2 separate regions of the Homo sapiens genome follow, and region 2 is linked to region 1. Evidence: fine-mapped expression QTL. A gene starts in region 1. The other region holds a variant in brackets. All regions are shown on one strand. Distances are between the middles of the regions.

Region 1 (9,913 bases):
AACAGTGATAATAACAAAGCTAGCAGCTTCCACTTATCAAGCACTTCCTGTGTGCTGCACACAAATAATGTTGCAAACCCTCATTATAACACTATAAATTGGGTGCATCACCCAGGCTGGAGTGCAGTGGCATGATCGTGGCTCACTGCAGCCTCGATTTCCTGAGCTCGGGTGATCCTCCCACCTCAGCCTCCCAAGTAACTGGGACTACAGGTATGCACCATGATGCTGGGCTAATTTTTCTATTTGTTGTAGAGATGGAGTTTCACCATTTTCTCAAACTCCTTGGCTCAAGTGATCCTCCTGCCTGAGCCTCCCAGAGAGCTGGGATTACTAGCTTGAGATGGAACAAGGTAAACTGGTTTCCACAGTGGCTGCACCATTTTACATTCTCATCAGCAATGTACAAGGATTCCAGTTTTTCCCACATCCTCTCCAATGCTTGTCATCTTCCTTTTTTTTTTTTTTTTTTTGGAGATGGAGTCTTGCTCTGTCACCCAGGCTGGAGAGCAGTGGCGCAATCTCAGCTCACTGCAACCTCCGCCTTCTGGGTTCAAGTGATTCTACGGCCTCAGCCACCTGAGTAACTGGTATTACAGTTACTCGGCTCACTGCAACCTCTGCCTCCCAGGTTCAAGCGATTCTCTTGCCTCAGCCTCTTGAGTAGCTGATATTACAGTTACTCGGCTCACTGCAACCTCCGCCTCCCAGGTTCAAGCGATTCTCTTGCCTCAGCCTCCTGAGTAGCTGGGAGTACAGGCATGCACCACCACACCCAGCTAATTTTTGTATTTTTACTAGAGACAGGGTTTTACCATATTGGCCAGGCAATCTCGAACTCCTGACCTCATGATCCGCCCTCCTTGGCCTCTCAAAATGCTGGGATTACAGGTGTGAGCCACCGAGCCCAGCCCGACCAGCTAATTTTGTCTCTACTAAAAAGTAGAGACAGGGTTTCACCATGTTGGCCTGGCTGGTCTTGAACTCCTGACCTCAGGTGATCCACCCACCTTGGCCTTCCAAAGTGTTGGGATTACAGGTGTGAGCCACTGTGCCCAGCCTAAAATCAACCATTTTAAAGTGGACAATTCAGTGACATTTAGTACATTCACAACGTGGTGTACCATTTCTGTCTAATTCAGGACAAATTTTATCATCTCAAAATAAAACCTTGTTGTGCCTATCAGGTAGTTACCAATGTTTCCCAATTTTAACAGATTAAGAAATGGACTAAGACAATAGGAAAAGTGCTGGCTGGGAGCCATGGCTCACACTTGTAATCCCAACTTTTTGGGAGGTCGAGGTAAGAGGATTACTTGAGCCTAAGAGTTGGAGACCAGCCTGGGTAACATAGTGAGACCCTCATCTCTATAAAAAATACAAAATAAGCTGAGTGTGGTGGTGTGCACCCGTAATCCCAGCTACTCGGGAGGCTGAGGTGGGAGGATTGCTTGAGCCTGGGAGGTCCAGGTTGCAGTGAGCCATGATTGTGCCACTGCACTCTAGCCTGGGTGTCAGAGCAATATCCTGTCTCAAAAAAAAAAAAAAAAAAAAAGAAAAAGAAAAAGAAAAAAAGTGCTAAGGACCCACAACAAAATTTTTAATATTAAAATTAAAAAATGAGGCTGGGTGCGATGGCTCATGCCTGTAATCCCAACACTTCGGGAGGCCGAGGCAGGAGGATCACTTGAGCCCCCGAATTTGGGATCAGCCTGGCCAACATGACGAAACCCTGTCTCTCTAAACAAAAATACAAAATTTAGCCAGGCGTGGTGGCCAGTGCTTGTAATTGAAGGCACTGGAGAGGCTGAGGCAAGAGAATCGTTTGAACCCGGTAGGCGGAGATTGCAGTGAGCCGATATCGCGGGCCACTGCACTCCAGCCTGGGCCACAGAGTGAAACTCTGTCTCAAAGGAAAAAAAGGAAAAGAATATAATAATAATGAATTCAGCTTGGATTTATAAATATAAATGTGTTAATATAAAGACAATAGTCTTTATACCAATACGGTTGTAAAATAAAATTCTTAATTTTTTATGGAGAAAAGGGTCAGTCCACTGAGGCAAAAGTGCTTGGGGCTCACGAAAGCCTCGAAGCTCTGCCACTACCATCCACACTGCAAAAATCCTTTGAAAACAAAATTGAGGCAAGCTCGTTTTTTTTTTTTTTCTTGAGACGGAGTCTCGCTCTGTCGCCCAGGCTGGAGTGCAGTGGCGCTATCTCAGCTCACTGCAAGCTCTGCCTTCCGGGTTTACGCCATTCTCCTGCCTCAGCCTCCAGAGTAGCTGGGACTACAGACGCCCGCCACCACGTCCGGCTAATTTTTTTGTATTTTTAGTAGAGACGGGGTTTCACCGTGTTAGCCAGGATGGTCTCGATCTCCTGCCCTCGTGATGCGCACGTCTCCGCCTCCCAAAGTGCTGGGATTACAGGCGTGAGCCACCGCGCCCAGCCAAGCAAGCTCGTTCTTAAATGCTAGGCTAATTCTGCCCCCTAGCGGCCACAGAGAAATCTCAGAAATTAATGCCCCCAGTTGTTGAGTAATTCGCACCTACCAGGTGCCTTGAACTTACGCTGCATTATTTTGTCCTCACAATTCCATGAGGTTAAGTGATATCCAAATGTATAGATAAGCTGCCGAAGATTCGAGTGCTTAAGTCGGTTTGTTGTTGTTTTTTTTTGAGACGGGGTCTCAAAAGACAGGATCTTACGGAAGTTAATGCTGTTTCCTACTGAAGGAGGCACAGCGAGCGCAAGCCTTGGTGGGCAGGAAGCGTGCTTTAAAGTTTGAGACTGTCAGGCCCGGCGCGGTGGCTCACGCCTGTAATCCTGGCACTTTGGGAGGCCGAGGCGGGCAGACTTGAGGTCAGCAATTTGAGACCAGTCCGGCTAACATGATGAAAACCCGTTTCTACTAAAAATTCGAAAATTAGCTGGGTGTGTGGCACGCCTGTAGTCCCAGCTACTCGGAAGGCTGAGGCAGGAGAATCGCTTGAACCCGGGAGGTGGAGGCTGCAGTGAGCCGAGATCGCATCTCTGCACTCCAACCTGGGCAACAGAGTGAGGCTCTGTCTCAAAAAATAAAGTTGGAGACTTTTATTCTAAAAGCATTCAGTGAGCCATTTATTTATTTATTTTCCTGTAAGCTTGGAAAAATAGGTTCTTCCCCACCCATCTACATGACAGTAATGAGCAAATATCCTTATCAGATAATACATGATTTGCAAACATTTTCTTTCATTCTGTGGGTTGCCTTTTCTCTCTCTCTCTCTTTTTTTTAAGGCAGAGTTTCACTCTTGTTGCCCAGGCTGGAGTGCAATGGTACGATCTCGGCTCACCACAACCTCCACCTCCCATATTCAAGTGATTCTCTTGCCTCAGCCTCCCGAGTAGATGGGATTACAGGCTTGCGCCACCACATGCGGCTAATTTTTGTATTTTTACTACAGACAGGGTTTCACCACGTTGGCCAGGCTAGTCTCCAACTCCTGATCTCAGGTGATCTGCCCGCCTTGGCCTCCCAAAGTGCTGGGGTTACAGGCGTGAGACACCGCGCCCAGCGTCTTTTCACTCTCTTGATAGTGTTCTTTGATGCACAAAAGTTTTAATTTCGAAGTATATCTTTTTGTTGTTTTTGTTGTTGTTGCCTGTGCTTTTAACGTCATATACAAGAAATCATTGCTAAATCCAACGTCATGAAGATTTCCCCTATGTTTTCGTCTAAGAGTATTATAGTTTTAGCTCTTCAGTTTACATCTCTGATCCATTTTGAATGAATTTTTGTATATGGTGTAAGGCTGCACTTTACTTTTTGTATATGGATATTCAGTTTTCCCAATGCACTTCATTTGGAAATAATTTCCCCCCATTCCCTGCTGGTTTACTACTCTCAATTGGATAGTAAAACCAATTAAACCAATATGTATTTTTTTTTTAAATGGTGTCTCACTCTGTCTCCCAGGCTGGAGTGCAATGGCATTATCTCAGCTCACTGCAACCTCCCCCTCCCGGGTTCAAGCAATTCTCGTACCTCAGCCTCTGGAGTAGCTGGGATTACAGGCAGGCGCCACTATGCCCAGCTAATTTTTGTATTTTTAATAGAGATGGGGTTTCACCATGTTGGCCAGGCTGGTCTCGAACTCCTGACCTCAGGTGATCCGCCCGCCTTGGCCTCCCAAAGTGCTGGGATCATAGGGTGAGCCACGGTGCCCAGCCTCTTAAAAAAAAAAAAAAAGAGATGGAGTCTCACTATGTTGTCCAGGCTGGTCTCTTTTTTACTTCCTTTTTTTTTTTTTTTTTTTTTTTGAGACGGAGTCTCACTCTGTCACCCAGGCTGGAGTGCAATGGCGCGATCTCGGCTCGCTGCAAGTCCGCCTCCCGGGTTCACGCCATCCTCCTGCCTCAGCCTCCAGAGTAGCTGGGACTACAGGCGCCCGCCACCACGCCCGGCTAATTTTTTTTGTATTTTTAGTAGAGATGGGGTTTCATCGTGTTAGCCAGGATGGTCTCAATCTCTTGACCTCGTGATCCGCCCACCTCGGCCTCCCAAAGTGCTGAGATTACAGGCGTGAGCCACCGCGCCCGGCCCAGGCTGGTCTCAACTCCTTGGCTCAAGCTATCCTCCCACCTCAGCCTCCCAGTGAGTGGGGATTGCAGGCGTGAGCCACTGCGCCCGGCCAAAACCAATTCTATACATTTGTTTTTTTCTTTTCCGACTTTTGAAAACCATGACAAAGGGAGGTTTCTTCCCCCCAATACCAAACCTGGTGCCTTTTAAGCTCTCTGTAGGAGCTGAGTATGCCCTAGTTGAACTTAAGCCAACTACACAGAAATACCTGCAGGGACCAGGGAGCATATTCCTCCTCCTGTCAAATGCCTGGTGAAGGCAACTGTGATTATCAGCTTAGCAGATGAAAAAGTAGGGCTGCATTCCTTCAGTTGTTGGACCCAAATTCTGCCAGATTCTGACAAAGGGCTTAAAAGGAAGAATGTTTAGGCCAGGTGCGGTGGCTCACGCTTGTAATCCCAGCATTTTGAGAAGCCGAGGCGGGCGGATCACGAGGTCAGGAGATCGAGACCATCCTGGCTAACATGGTGAAACCCCGTCTCTACGAAAAATATATATAAAAAAATTAGCCGGGCGTTGTGGCGGGCGCCTGTAGTCCCAGCTACTCGGGAGGCTGAGGCAGGAGAATGGCGTCAACCCGGGAGGCGGAGCTTGCAGTGAATCGAGATCGCGCCACTGCACTCCAGCCTGGGCGACAATGAGAGACTCTGTCTCAAAAAAAAAAAAAAAAGAAGAAGATGTTTAGGACATGGTTTTTGGAGTCAGAGACGTATGTTCAAATTCTGGCTTCACTATTTTATAGTCTTTGGGCATATGCCCTTTATGTACCCTTGAAGATGTTGCTTAACCTTCCTGAGCCTCAGGTACCTCATCTTTAAAATGGGGATAATGTCTCGGGCCTAGCTGCGAGTCTCTAGTCAGTGCTCAGTAAAAAGTAGCAGACATGATTGAAAACTCGTTTTCCTCTTACAATTGAAGATAGGAACCTTTTCAAGAGCAAGCACCAGGCACCGAATTTAACGACTGGTTGCATTTCTAGGTGATCCAAGACCGTTTGCCCCCGGTCTCCCTGGCAGCACAGCGGTAGGAGATAAGAATGATATGACACCATGCTTGCAAAGTGCTCACAACACACTCCGGCGCTTAAAAAACGAGAGCTGAGTCATGGATGCCCAGTTTCCCCATCCGTAAAATGAGCAAGTTCGATCACTTGAAACGACATTCTTGGATCTTGGATGACTCAGATTTTCCAGGTACATGAGGAAAGGCACCCAGAGGGAAGGAGGAGGAGTGGCAGTGCTGCGACCAAGCCCAGGTTTAGCGAAACCTACAGCTCCACTAGTTCCCCTACCTCCGCAGGTGCCAAGCGGGTTAGGTGGGGAGTAGCCACAGGGCGGAGCTTAGTCGGCTCCGCCCCCAACCCGCGCTTTTCTCATTGGCCCACTGAACTCGAGACTCGTGACGCCTTAAGCGTGCGCCCAGCGTGTGAAGGGGGCGTGGCACGCTGAGAAGGAGCAGACAAGATGGCGACGTCCGTGGGGCACCGATGTCTGGGATTACTGCACGGGGTCGCGCCGTGGCGGAGCAGGTATAGCAGCGCGGAGAGACTACCTTGGGGCGTGGGGCAACCTGGACCAAGCTGGGGTCTGAAGAGAGATGTTTCTGTGTCGCGGGCTCGCTCTGAGGCGAGCTCGGGTGGAGACGGAGCCACCTTCACCTCGAGCTTAGGAGCAGGTGCGACTGCTCCTGCGTAGGGCGGTCCGGATTTACTTAGGGTGTGGCCTAGAAGCTCGCGCTTTGCCCTTTCCAGCTAGGTGGAAGTTCACGAGGGACAAAAATCAGATGAAATAGGCTACCTGCCCGTCTCTTGAGTCGAGGCAGGGCTTTCAGATGTTCAGATGCCATTTTCTCGTGTGTTCGTTTTCGTAGAAGGAATGATGTCCTGTGGGAAGGACACTAGATTGAGTGTCAGGCAACTTTCATTTCTGGATCTTAGTCTTTGAAGCTAGAGGGTTAGGTTAGGTAATCTCAAAACAATATGTTATGGGGCTAGAGTCTTGGTTACCCTTGTGACCCCCAGCTGTTAGATTCTTAGAAATGTGGGAGACTTGAGGGGTCTTCTGAGTCCAGCTGTCTCTCTTTGGAGTTAATGAGATTGAGGCTCCGAGAGAGGGAGGGATTTGCTCAAGTTCACCTAGCCAGTTTGTAGCAGAGCCCGGACCCCCATCAAGGTACCCCCTCACGCGACGATCTTTCTCTCAGGCTGCCCGCCGTGAGGGCAGTGGTTATACAGAAAATAGCTTAGAGCATTTGGAGTGTCGGAAAATGGATTAAAATGTAGCTGTGATTCAGAGTCGGCTGCCTGGTGTCATTTCAAAGAGCTAAGATTTGAGAGATGCGCCATACTTGTGTGTTTCCTACAGGGTTCATTTTGTCAGCGTTGATCAGAGGATAACCTATTGTTTTGGGAGGAGACGGACACTGGATTTGGACTGAGAGGGAACAGAAACCATCATTGGTCTTGTTATGAAAGCGTCACTCTTTCATCATTAACTGTACAGAAATGATTATCTCTCAGGAGAGGGCTCTGCATTGTGGTGGTAACTGTTAGAATTTGGGCAGGAGACTTTGTTTTCAATGTTATTACCAGGCGTGCTGTGTATGAGTCAACCCTGAATTCATTTAAAGTGTGTCACAGGCTGGGCGCGGTGGCTCACGCCTGTAACCTCAGCACTTTGGTAGGCCAAGGTGGGTGGATCACTTGAGGTCAGGAGTTCGAGACCAGCCTGGCCAATGTGGTGAAACCCTGTCTCTACTAAAAAATACAAAAATTAGCCGGGCATGGTGGCAGGCACCTGTAATCCCAGCTACTTGGGAGGCTGAGGCAGGAGAATTGCTTGAACCTGGGAGGCGGAGGTTGCAATAAGCCAAGACTGCGCCGCTGGAGTCCAGCCTGGGCGACAGAGTGAGACTCTGTCTCAAAAAAATTAAAAATAAATAAAGTGTGTCACGAATTGAAAGGACTAAAATGAGACTCTTAAAAAATTGTTTTTTGTTGTTGTTATTTGTTTTGGAAGTCAGAGCCTCACTCTGTTGCCCAAGAGGGAGTGCAGTGGTGTGATGATGGCTCACTGCAGCCTCCACCTCCTGGTCTCAAGCAGTTCTTCCACCTCAGCCTCCTGAGTAGCTAGGACCACAGGTGCACGCCACCCCGCCCAGCTGCATTTTTTTTGGGGGTGGGGGTGGAGACAGGGTTTCACCATGTTGCCCAGGCTGGTGTTGAACTCCTGGGCTCAAGTGATCCACCCACTTTCACCTCTCTAAGTGCTGGCATTACAGAAGTGAGCCATCGCAGTCCACCTAAAATAATTTTTTTAAATGATGAGAGGAGGCTGTACCTCAGTCACCATCATTAAAAGGGAAAGAAAAAAAGCTATGTTTTAGTACCAGTGTAGATAGATAAGGCTAGACTTAGATGCAGTGGGTGAGAGAGATGAAGATTTGGGTACAATAAGAAACCTTAATTTTCAAAGGTATTCTATATCAAGATAGAAATGATATTAATACACAAACCAAAAAGATAACATTTCTGTGGGTTTTTAGTAAACCAGTGCCTATTTGTGAGACATGTAAATGAAAACCTTATATTTCAGGTAAGTTTTTCAATAACTGGGTGATGTGTGACAGGTGATAGATAACATCTTGGGTGATAATTTAGGGCCATGTTTCCTAAACTCATTTGATAAAAGAATGGGCTGAATGGGCTGGGATGCTTGTTAGAAATAGAGATTCCTTGGGAGTCTCTCTGAGCCTGCTGTAGTTTGGGAGGCTGGCTGATTAAAAAAAACAAAGCCGGGCACGGTGGCGCATGCCTGTAATCCCAGCACTTTGGGAGGCCAAGGTGGGTGGATCATGAGGTCAGGAGATCGAGACCAGCCTGGCCAACATGCTGAAACCCCGTCTCTAACAAAAATTAGCCGGGTGTGGTGGCGTGTGTCTGTAGTCCCAACTACTCAGGAGGTTGAGGCAGGAGAATCTCCTGAACCCGGGAGGCGGAAGTTGCAGTGAGCCGAGATCACGCCACTGGACTCCAGCTTCGGCAACAGAGCAAGACTCCGTCTCAAAAAAAAAAAGATTCCAGATATGCCCCCATCCTACTGCCAATTTCAGATTCAGTAGATATAAGTTGGGGCTCTGGCAACTGTAGTTTTTACAGGTGATTCTTAGGTTCAGGCAAGTACGGACAATAGTACCTAGGAAGTAGCTTCTCGTGCATGACTTCCATCAGAAATATTTATGGCATCCCTACCACTGCAAACCACACTGTCAACGGACCATAGAGAAGGGAGAAGAGAGAAGGGAAGGGGAGCAAATGAAGAAATTAAAAACATTTGAAATAGGCCTTGTCTTCAAGGAACTTTACTATATACTTGTAATACATGGTGGAATACGGGATAAAGCCTTCAAGAGGTCTGTCCGTTCTGTTTTAGGAGAACTTTCACAGCTTTAGAAAGCAAGGGAGACATAAGGACTATAGGCAAAATGTTACTACTAGGGGTGATGTTAAAAATGTCTTAGGCCTGGGCGTGGTGTCTCATGCCTGTAATCCCAGCATTTTGGGAGGCTAAGGCGGGTGGATTGCATGAGCTCAGGAGTTCAAGACCAGCCTGGGCAACATGGCAAAAACCCATCTGTACAAAAAACACAAAAATTAGCTGGTCATAGTGGTGCATACATGTAGTCCCAGCCACCTGGGAGGCTGAGGTAGGAGGATTGCCTGAGCCCAGGAGGTTGAGGCTGCAGTGAGCCAAGATCATGCCACTGCACTCCAGCCTGGGCAACAGAGTGAGACCCTGTCTCAAAAAAAAAAAAAAAAGAAAAAGAAAAAATAGTGCAACTGGCCAGGTGTGGTGGCTTATGTCTGTAATCTCAACACTTTGGGAGGCTGAGGCAGGAGAATTGCTTGAGCCCAAGAGTTCGAGACCAACCTGAGCAACATAGTGAGACCTCCTCTCCGCAAAAAATGGCTGGGTGCACATCTGTGGTCCCAGCTACTTGGGAAGCTAAGGTGGGAGGTTCACTTGTGCCCAGGAGGTCGAGGCTGCAGTGAGCTGTGATTTCACCACTGCATTCCAGCCTGGGTGACAGAGTGAGACCCTGTCTCAAAAAACAAACAAACAAACAAACAAACTTATAACCAGGATGCCATGGAGACAGACTAGTGAGAGTGAATGCTGGTCATAGATGATTGATATGACCATCTCAGTGTATGTCAGCTGAATATCAACTCTTAATAATAACAGTCTAACTAGGTGCCAGGCCCTGAGCTAAGGTTTTGCATGATTG
Region 2 (9,913 bases), 36 kb after region 1:
GTGAGAAGCCGCTGGAATTGTATCCTGTTCAGTGGCTCAGAATGAGGAGACTGAGACTTCTAGGGCCAACTCACCATTGAATAGGGAATGGGCGTGCTCAGTTGCTCCCACAGATGTGAACAAGGCTACTTAATGCCACACCTTTTCTTTGGTTGAATGGTGATCCCTCTCAGACCCTTCCCCTCCCCTAAAAGCATTAAGCTGATTGGTCTGATCCCATGTGGGCTGAGTGCTTGTCGGATGCCTGGCACCATGTGGGTACGGGGTGGACTGCCAAGCCGCAGACTAGGGCCCTCCGATCTAGCGGGGTGGGAAGACAGCATGCATCATCCATCCCATGGGCTCTGCATCCTAGTAGTGAAGCAGGGAGGCCTGTGTGCTCTAGGCTGGGGCGGTCGGACCTTGTTTCTGGCTGCCCTTGTTCGCTGGTCTACATCAGTTTTGGAGTCAGGGCATTCTGTTTGTCAGGGTTTTGCGTGCCTGGAGGGCAGAAGGTTGGGGTGGGAGCAGCCTTGTAGCTTCAAGATGGGATGCGGGAAGGATCAAGGATTTCGCATTCTCTGGAGCTTCCTAGGGCTAGCAGGGGTGGCTTTCTGTTCAGTCCAGTGAAGAAGCTGGTCCTCAGTGAGGTCAGCAGCACGTGGGGTCCTGAGTCTGCCTAGTGTTGGGTCGCGGGTGGTGGAGGGGAGGCAGCTGCTTTGGGAGGCCAGCCACGGGCTGCAGACAGGCGGCTCACAGACCAGCGGACAGACTGAGGACAGACAGGAGGCATCCCTTGGGAGCAGCCGGGCCCACCTTGCTGGTTGAGTGGGGTCCTCCCGTGACAGTGACCAAGCAGAGCTGGTGTCTGCTGCCCTTCCCCTTCTCCCTGGCCTTGGCCCTTCCTCTTAAAGGGGCCCTCGGGTTGGGCGGACGGCCCAGCAGGACTGGGGCTCAGAGGGGGCGGCAGCTTTAAGGGTGGCTGGGGTCGGCCTCCTGCCCCCGCCCCTGGTAGTCTGAGTGGCTGGAGCCCGAGCCCCGCCCACTCGCCCCAAGGCTTCCCGGCTCCGGGAGCGCCCCTAGGGAGTCGGAGCCCGGAAGCTGGAGCCACCTGCGGGTGAGTGAGCGGAGCCGGCGCCCCGGCCCTGCCGGGAGCCCCAGGTGACTTCTCAGGGAGGCGCCCCACCCTGCCCGCTCAGAGGGCCAGTGCCGGGTGGGGGTGCCCTTCTAGGGCCTTCGGTCGCAGGTGGGCTCTCCCAGCTGTGACGACGCGGCCCCGGCCTGAGGAGCCCCGCGGACAAGGTTGAGCGAGTCGTGGGCTTTTTTTCCGTCCCCACGTGGGCACGGCCCGGGCTGCGTGAGCTCACTTCCTCCACATCTTATCTCCTGCCGGGCGCGGGTACGGGAAGTGAAGAGCGTACGGGAAGTGAGGCGGCCGCGGGAAGTGAGGGGGTGCCTGCAGTGAGGCGGCTGCAGGAAGTGAGGGGGTGCCGGCTGGCATTGGCGGGGCCCGGGCTGAGAGCTCCGTCTCCTTGGTGCTGCCGGAGGGCCTGGGGGCAGGCCGCCTGGGGAAGAGGGCGGCGCCCGAGGGCCAGGGAGCGGGTGGCCGGCTTACTGCCTTTGCCCAGAGCCGGTTCCCCTCAGCACCCAGAGTTGTCTGAGAGGAGGTTCCCTGTCTTTGGGCGGCTAGGATAGACCCCTGCGAGTCCTGCCTGCCCTCTTCCCAGGGCCTCCTGGGCTGCCTGCCACTGACTCTGGTCCATGTCGCCCAGGGAGGACCATTTTCCCCGTCTCCTACTTGGGAAGTTTGCCTGCTTCTAGCTCAGGAATGCAGGGAAGGCAGGGTTGTCGCCCCACTAGACGCACGCCGCTGCATGGTGGCCAGGCCTCAGCTGAGCTGGGGAGAAAGTCAGCCCCTTGCCCCCACCCTCGCCCCCGGGGGAAGTGCATGGCCCGCAGTCAGGCCACTGGACACAGGATTTGGGGCCCTGGAAGTTTCTGCTGAGGCTTCAAGAGGGGTGGTCCTGGCGTTCCAGGCGCTTCCCATCAGACAGCAGGAGCCAGTTCTCAGGGTCCTTGGCTGAACACACAAGCTGCAAAGCTACATATACTCCGGCAGAGCTGGCTGCGGGCTGCAGACTGCAGGTGACAGTGCCATATCCCTCACTGCCTGCTCCGCCTTGCTAAGGCTTGAACCAGAATCCACTAGGAGCAGGACTGTAAGTGTATACACGCATACCCCTACACACACACACCCCTGCACCTACACACACCCTCATGCACACACCCCCTACCTACACACACCCCCTCACCTACACACACCCCTTGCACCTACACACCCATACACGCACGCGCCCCCTACAGGCACACACCCCCTCACCTACACACACCCTCGCACCTACATACACACCCCTATATGCGCCCACCCTCACACCTACGCACATGCCTCCTACATGCACACACCTTGCACCTGTGCACACCCCCTCCAGGCACATAACCTCACACCTACGCACACACCACCTATACGCATAACACACTCACACCTACACACCCCCTACACACACCCTCACACCTACACACCCCACACATCCTCGCACCTATACACGCACCCCTCCATGCACATACCCTTGCACCTGCACACGTATCCTCCATGCACACACACTTCCACCTACATGCACCTACCCCTCACGCACAACAATCTTGCAGGCCCCAACCCAACCTGTAGTAACTGCTGCCTGGCCTGGGGTCATTCATCGACTTCAGTTGGAATGTTCCATTCCACTGGGGGGGCAGGTGTTGTGGTCTTTACCCTGGTTGGTGAGGGACGGGTGGGGACACTGCCTTACTGCTCTGGTATGGATCCCCAAAACAGCATGTCCTGACAAAGGTGTTCCCCTACCCCCTATACGGTCCTATCAGCCATTGTTTCCTATTCACAGGGCCGGTCACTCCGCGCAAGTTTGGGTTCCTGTTTTAGAACTGCCACCTAAGCCCCTCTTATTTCATCTTTCCTGTGGTGGAAACCCCTGCCCCCACCGGAGTGTGAGGTTGACTTTTTGGAAAGAGAGGTGAGGTGTTGGAAGCCAGGTCTGAGGCTGCGTCGCGCTCCTAGGTGGAAGTGGGGTTTCTGAGCAGTTGTTCTGGGCCATGGTTGCAGCTGTGCTCTGAGCCTCAAGGGGGTGGCCAGGAGGAATTTCCTTTCCCATTTTCCAGATGTACAAACCAAGACTTAGAGACTACCTGTGACTTGCCAATGCCTTTCCCTGCTCTCAGGGCAGAGGTAGAGGAAGGCAGCCAGGATTGCAGTGACCAGGTTGTCATCAGCCACAAAGCCCTCTGAGTTCTCATGTTGCAGGTGACTGGCCCTTAGGCCATGTAGTGACATTAAAGTCCTATTGGTCACAACCCTAAACTCCTCTCCACAGAATGTCTTTGAGGCTTAGAAGGGAGGGAAGGTGTCAGTGCTTCCTCCATTCTGGATACCCTTCTTGCAAGCTCCTCATCCAGGGCCTGAGGCTCCCACCTCGTGTCACCTCAAGACAGCCAGAGAGGATGAAATCTTTGGCTTGGGCTTCCAGGGCTGTCATAGGCAGAGGGCAAGCCAGGATTTGAAATAGGGAGGCCAGAAACACTGCTGGCCAAGGAAGTGGCTTGGCCTTGGGAAGCAAGAAGGCAGCAACCTCTAGGCGCCCCTTCTCTCCATCCTGCAGCTCTGAGAGGGACAGACGGTGCTCAGCCTGTGTCCTGGGGCAAAGCTGGATTCATTTTCCTCCCTGGCGATCTTCTGGGGCCCACAGCTGGTGATATGGAGGCACTGACACCCTGGTCTCGGCGCTTGTTTTAGAAGAGGCAGAACAGTGATAAAGACAAGGATCTAAATGGGCAAGGACGCCCTGCCCTCACTGGGCTCACTGGCAGGTGCGGTGCCCCAGCCTGGCCTCTCAGGATGGTTCTTAGTCTCTCCAGGGCTCACCTTTCCCTGATGGGCATCTGACCTGGCCCCTGGCCTCATGTGCCTTGATTCCTCAGTAGGGCCCCCTCTGAGACCGGAGGCCAGACCCAGCCCCTCACAGCACCATGGGAGAATGAAATGCCAAGGCTCACAGGGGAACCTGCTTTGAGAACCCAAGGTTTTTGGCCGAGCTGGGTTTATCTGGGTTCATGTCTTTCTAATACATTCAGGGCTGTGGTCGTCACTGTCCCACATGGTAGGTCAGTGAGGAAAACTGGCAGGAGGCTGGGGCTCCCCAAGGCCCCTCCTCTCTGCCTCCCCTCAAGGCCACGCTTGCCTCCCTCTGAATCCTGGCTGTGAGCTCAGTTCCAAGCCTGCACTCTATAGACCAGGGAAAGAGCTTCCCCTTTGGAACCAGGCACCAGGCTCACCCCTGACTGCTATCACCCCTGTTTCCTGGGCAGATGGCAGGAGGCCAGCATGGAGCCTGGTGGGCCAGGGAGGGTGGGGCGTTTGCTCAGTATGTTGGCGGAGTGGTTGGAGTGACATGGCCCTGGAGGCCTGGACACTGGGGCTGTCTATGGGCCTGGGCCTCGGCCTTGAGATGCAATGGGCCTCTTGTGCCTGTGCCAATCTCCTGGTGCCGGCACCTTCCCAAGGGAGGATGCTGGTGTGTATCTGTTTGCTGGTGGGTAGGCGCCCTCCTGCCTGACCCATCTGCAGTGAGCTGTCCCCGTCACTCATTTAGGAGAGGGGCCTGGACCAGCCCCAGCCTGGATCGGGGGAGAAATCCACGCTTGTGTCTGACCTTAGTCACCTTATTGTCCTGGCTCCAAGAGGCCACTGAATCTCATACCCGGGGCTTCGGTGATTCTTGCAGGCAGGTTCCCGGGCGGAATCTTCACCTGTGTGGCTGAGGAGGGTTTGCCAGGGCGTCAGATGTTCAACCACGCGCGACCACAGCGATGTCTGAGTTAGGCCTCATGGCGGGCTGGCCATGCCTGGCCTATTCTTTGCTTTAGATGGCAGCTCTTGGGGCCACATTTCATCATCTAAGGATGGTGACAGGTGCCTGCCCCTTCCTGGGCAGTGGCTGGGGGTGAAGGACTGGAGGGGTGGGCTCCCTGTCAGCCCATATCCTGGAGGGCCTTGATTGCCTGGGCTGAGATAGCACAGCTTCAGCATGTTTGCTCTTCCTTCCGCTATCTGTGCAGGCCAAGGTGGAGAGGCTTTGTAGGGGCCGGGTGTGTCCTCCCAGATAGCCAGGCTGGGGCCCTGGCCAAAGTGCTTTTCTGAAGCAACGATGGAAAAAGGGGAGTGGAACTGGTTTGTGCTGCAGTCCTGGCCTGTTCCCAGCCCCAGGCTGGTTTTCCCCACATGCACAGCTTCTGAGGAGGCCTGGAGCAGGGAGCTGGGTATTTTGTGTGTGTGTTGGTGGGGGGTCAAGGCCAGGAGGGGTGAGGAGAGAGCCAGAG[C/T]AGGTAAGATGCCAGGTTCTCACCAGGGCACCTCTCGTGGCTTCCCGCTCATCTCATTCCTCAGATGCTACTTTGTAACCTGAATTGAAAATGGGTCAGGTCCTGGCAAGGGAGGGGCCAAACTGCAGACCGGCTGACGCGGTGCTGGGCCTGGGCCTGGAGCACGGGGCTCAAGTTCCCACTTTGTGCGTTTGGAGCCAAGTGGGGCCTGAAAGCCCTGGCAGCAGTGGCTGGTCCCCTCCCTGTCATGGCTTACTGGACCGGGCAGCCCTAGGGCCTTGCCCCCTACTGCCTCCCCAGGCCAGCTGAGGAAGAGGATGAGCAGTGCAGGCTGGCTCAGCCCTGGGTAGCAGGGACAGAGCAGGTGGCCAGGACTGGGGACAGTGGGCTTTAGTGCAGGGGCTTTTGCACTGGACTGCAAGCCCTGAGCAGGTGACCTGAGCAGGTGTGTGACCAGTGCCTGTCTGTCTGCAATAGCCCTGACCCTCTATTCTGCACCCTGTGAGCCACCGAGACTGAACCAAACCCAGGAAGCGGCGCCACCAACCAGCCTCGCAGAGGCAGAGGCCCTGGAGCAGTGACAGCACAGGAGATCTGCTGGCTCGGGGGAAGGGGAGGAAAGAGGAAAACAAAGGGAGTGATCGAGTGAGCCTCGCCCCGCCCTCCCTGCGCCGGCCCATGATGTGTCAGTCAGAGGCGCGGCAAGGACCAGAGCTCCGCGCGGCGAAATGGTGAGATGCTGCCCACCGCGCCCTAACCCCACGGTTCCCCGCCACGACCTCCGGAAGGTCAGAGTTCACATCCAGCGGCCTCGCAGTAGAGGTGGCGGCAAGGGGACTGGTGGTCAGCCCCCGAGGCTGGAGGAGCCTGGCCTGGGGGGCCTGAGCACCCTGAGTCGGAGAGCCCGCTTCAGGTATCTTTGGTTCCAACCATGAGGAGGGCCCAGCAGGGGGAGGCTGCCAGCGAGCCTCAGACCTCATGCCTGCGATCTTCCCTACCCTGGTGCTCCCAGGCCCCCTGCTCGCAGCCCAGACCCTTGCCTCTGCACCCCACCTAGGAGAGAGGCTTCCCCATTCCCCTTCCTGCCCATGGGAGGGGTGTAGCTCTTCCCAGTTGGTCCCTGCTCTTCTGCAGTGAGTGGGGCAGGTGGCAAAGCCAGAGGGGAGCAGTGATTTGTCTTTGCTTGGCCCCTGCCACCTTCCTGGACCTTTTAAAAATACACCGGGGTGCGATGGGAGAGAAAGTAGGCACCCGGGAGCTGCGTGGATGCAGCCAGCTCTGAGCCTGAGCCTGAGCGGGGTTCGCCACTGGTTCGCCTGCCGTCTGCTCTGCTGCTATCAGCTGAGATGCTGCTTTGTTCCTTGGTTTGCTCAGCAACTGGGAGAGAGGACTCAGCTTCTCTTGAGAGCACAGTCCCAGATGGCAGCCGTAGATTAGCTAAATGCAGTTACTTTGCAGATGAGGAAACTGAGACCTGGGGACGTTCTGAGTGGATGGCAGTGTGGTCTCCTGCTGGCTACCCTGGGCCTCAGGAGCATTTGCTAGGCCTAGGCACAGACAGGGTGGGGTGGGCCTTGTTTAGGCGCAGGAGGCCAGGGTTGTGGTGGAAAGGCCCGTCCAGCCTCTGCGGCTCTGGTGAAGCTGAGCCCCTGCTGAGTGCCCTGCATTTGTGCTGGGAGGGTGGGGAGAGGCCGGATCACAGAGAGGCTGGATGCAGAAAGGAGGGGCTTGGGTCTCGTGTGTGTGTGTGTGTGTGTGTGTGTGTGTGTGTGTGTGTGTGTCCACCTTTGCTGAAAGGAGGGGCTTGGGATGGGTGTGTGTGTGTGTGTGTGTGTGTGTCTGTCTGTGCAGCCCCAGCAGAGCAGACAGGTGGCTTGAGAGCTTGTGGTGGGGAGGTTTTGTTCACAAACCTGTGGATGGGTTTTCAGAACCTGGCCTGTTATAGAAAGACCATGCAGATGGATGGAGCCGTAGCTGTGTGGTGGTGGTAGGCGGAGTGTAAATGCTCCCTTTGAGATCTTGTCTGGCCTTGGCCCCGTAATTTAGCAGATGAGGAAAGGGGGGGCCTGGAACCATGAAAAGGATATCCCAGATCCTGCAAAGGATGGTAGCGGAAGACTCAGCAAATGGTTACCCAGCTGGCTGGGTCGTAGCTCCTCAGCGCTATGTGCTGCCGTGCCAGTGCCTGTGTGGCAGAGCTGGCCCCTGGGGCCCACTCTCCTGGGCTGCGGAGGCTGAGGGATGTGAGGCAGGCCCTACACCCTGCTCTCCCCTTCCTGGGCCCAGGTGCTTGGGCCTGGAGGCCCTTGCTGGGAGCTGCTGCAGCTGAGAGGTGCCCCGCAGCTGGGCCTGACTCTCCTCTTGCGGCTGCCCCCACATTCCCAGTCCTCCCCAGCTGGCTGGCGGGTGGGAGAGCCTGGGAAATGAGTCCGCTAGCCAGAGGCAGCCAAGCCCCTGAATCAGAATGGGGTTGGGACGAGGGGGCACAGCCAGTGCTTGCTGGGCTCCATCACCCCCATGGAGAGGCAGCTTGCCAAGGGTGGGTAGACAGGAGGAATCCTGCCCTGGGTGCAGGTGGCAGCCTCCTGGGTCCTGCCCAGAGCCTGGCCACTGACCTGGCTGTGCATGGACCTGTGCCCTGCAGGTTGCACTTCCCCCAGCTGGCCCTGAGGCGGAGGCTGGGGCAGCTGAGCTGCATGTCCAGACCCGCTCTGAAACTGCGCTCCTGGCCCTTGACCGTCCTCTACTACCTCCTGCCCTTCGGCGCCCTCAGACCGCTCAGCCGGGTGGGATGGAGGCCCGTAAGCAGGGTAAGTGTGCACAGGCCCCTGTGGCTCGGACCTCCCTTCCGGGCAGGCCTGAGGTTGGGGTGCAGGAGAGACTGAGGTGGTGGCGAGCTGTCAGAAGCAGAGGTCACCGCTACATCTTCAGGGGGTCCGGGTCGGAAGGTTCATTGGTGGGCAAGGCCAAGGCAGCTTTTGAGAAGGCCACTACCTGGGCCGCGGGTGACTGCGAGGGCATGTCGTGCCCTGCCCACTCCCCTAGCCTGCCTCATGTCTGCCATTTGGGGCTCTGGTTCTGGAAGGAACCCAGTCTGGGGATTCAGAAAATGGTGTCTGTCTCTGATTTTTCTGTGTTCAAGCAAAAAAGAGCTTATAGGTGATTTTGAACAGAAGCCAAATTAATTCCGGGATGCCAAAGGGGTGGTTCAGGATGGATGGATCCTGTTTGGGTCCCTTAGGGTGAGGACACCCTTAAGGAACCCAGAGGCATGCCCCAGGAATGGGCAAGGGAACTGGCTTGTCCTCTCCTGGTCCCTAGAGGGCTTGCTCTTGCCCTTGGCTTCCCAGGCAGGTTGACCCCAAGGAGGAAACCCTGTTCCTGGGCCTTTGACAGTCACATGGGTGTCATCAGAGCTCAGGGGCACTGAGGCACCCTGGACATTAGCCCAGGCTCCCACCTGTGCCTGGGAAGGGCCTGGGCTCACATAGCCCTTCTGTGTGACTGGGCATCAGCTGGAAGGGATAAGAGCAGCTCTCTGGGAGCTTACCTTACCTTGGAGAGGTGTTGAAAGTTGGAATGAAATCAGTTTTACACCTTGGGGAGTTGGTGTCTTGGTTGTGTTTAGAGAAGCAGCAGCCACCAATTACAGGCAGCTTCTACAGTGGCAGCAGCACCTGAAGTTTAAGAGGCTGCCCCTTCCTGGGTACCTGGCCCTGCCGGAGAGCTCTGGGACCATCTAGTGGGACCCAGTGCTTGTCCCCAGGCCATCGTCTGTCTTAGGTGCTCCAGGCTTCCCTGAAGGAAGAGAGAACAGAGGGGCCTGAGGGGATGACTTCTCTTTGCCTCCTGGGAGGAACCCCAGGTGCAGATGGCTTTATGGCCTGGCTCAGTCACAGTAGAACGTTGAACACAAGTCCTGCCGTGGGGCCAAGGTGGGGCTCAGCAGGGCTGGGCTTCTCAGACTGGCTGCATCCAGGCCCTCAAGAGTGCTGGCTGGACCTGTGGGGGCTGCAGACCCTGTGTCTGCAGCTCAGGCCCAGGTGACAGTGACATCGCAGACCTGCATCTGAAAATCCCTGTTGGTGCTCAGGGTATCCTCCTTCTTCCTGTTAAGACAGAGGGACACACTTTGGGCTGTAGACTTGTTCCATGCACTTGGGAGCCTCCTCCTTTGGTGGTCTGGGATATGGGCAGTGACCACGGGCAAGATGCCCACCACCTCTCCACACACTGTGATATTGGGGTCACCGTGGCTAGGGTCACACACTGTGGTTAGGATCAGATCCGTTTCCGACCCCCACTTTAAGAAGTAAGACTGCTGGGCGTCTCCCGTTCTGGGACTGGAGCAGTTGCTATTTGACTTTTGCATGAAATGATGAAATCCACTGGAGTTGTATGTAAATCCAGCACTCCGTGTGGCAGGTGCAGTCTGGTTCCCAGTGAGAAACAGCCACATCACAAAAGCAGCGTGGGGCACCTGGGCCCTGGTGTCCTCCGTGGGGTG

What was found. PIP is the estimated chance that this variant, and not a neighbour inherited with it, causes the effect.
Region 2: its variant is fine-mapped to the expression of PISD in testis (GTEx, PIP 0.97).

Annotation. Positions count from the first base shown.
Region 1 is chr22:31,658,386-31,668,298 of GRCh38, reverse strand. It overlaps PISD (phosphatidylserine decarboxylase), which reads left to right and starts at 6,084. Exons shown (of 8, transcript NM_001326411.2): 1 at 6,084-6,155. The coding sequence starts at 6,091. RefSeq lists enhancers at 2,817-3,318, 6,044-6,343, 6,584-6,633, 5,851-7,050, 7,024-7,163 and 2 more.
Region 2 is chr22:31,621,987-31,631,899 of GRCh38, reverse strand. All of the region lies in intron 3 of PISD (phosphatidylserine decarboxylase), which reads left to right. Among named protein-coding and RNA genes, the nearest start is that of MIR7109, 5.4 kb to the right of the region's middle. RefSeq lists enhancers at 1,243-1,537, 4,662-5,214, 5,768-6,321, 6,874-7,427, 4,064-8,521 and 2 more and a silencer at 896-1,315. The variant C/T (reference allele first, on the strand shown) is at 5,407.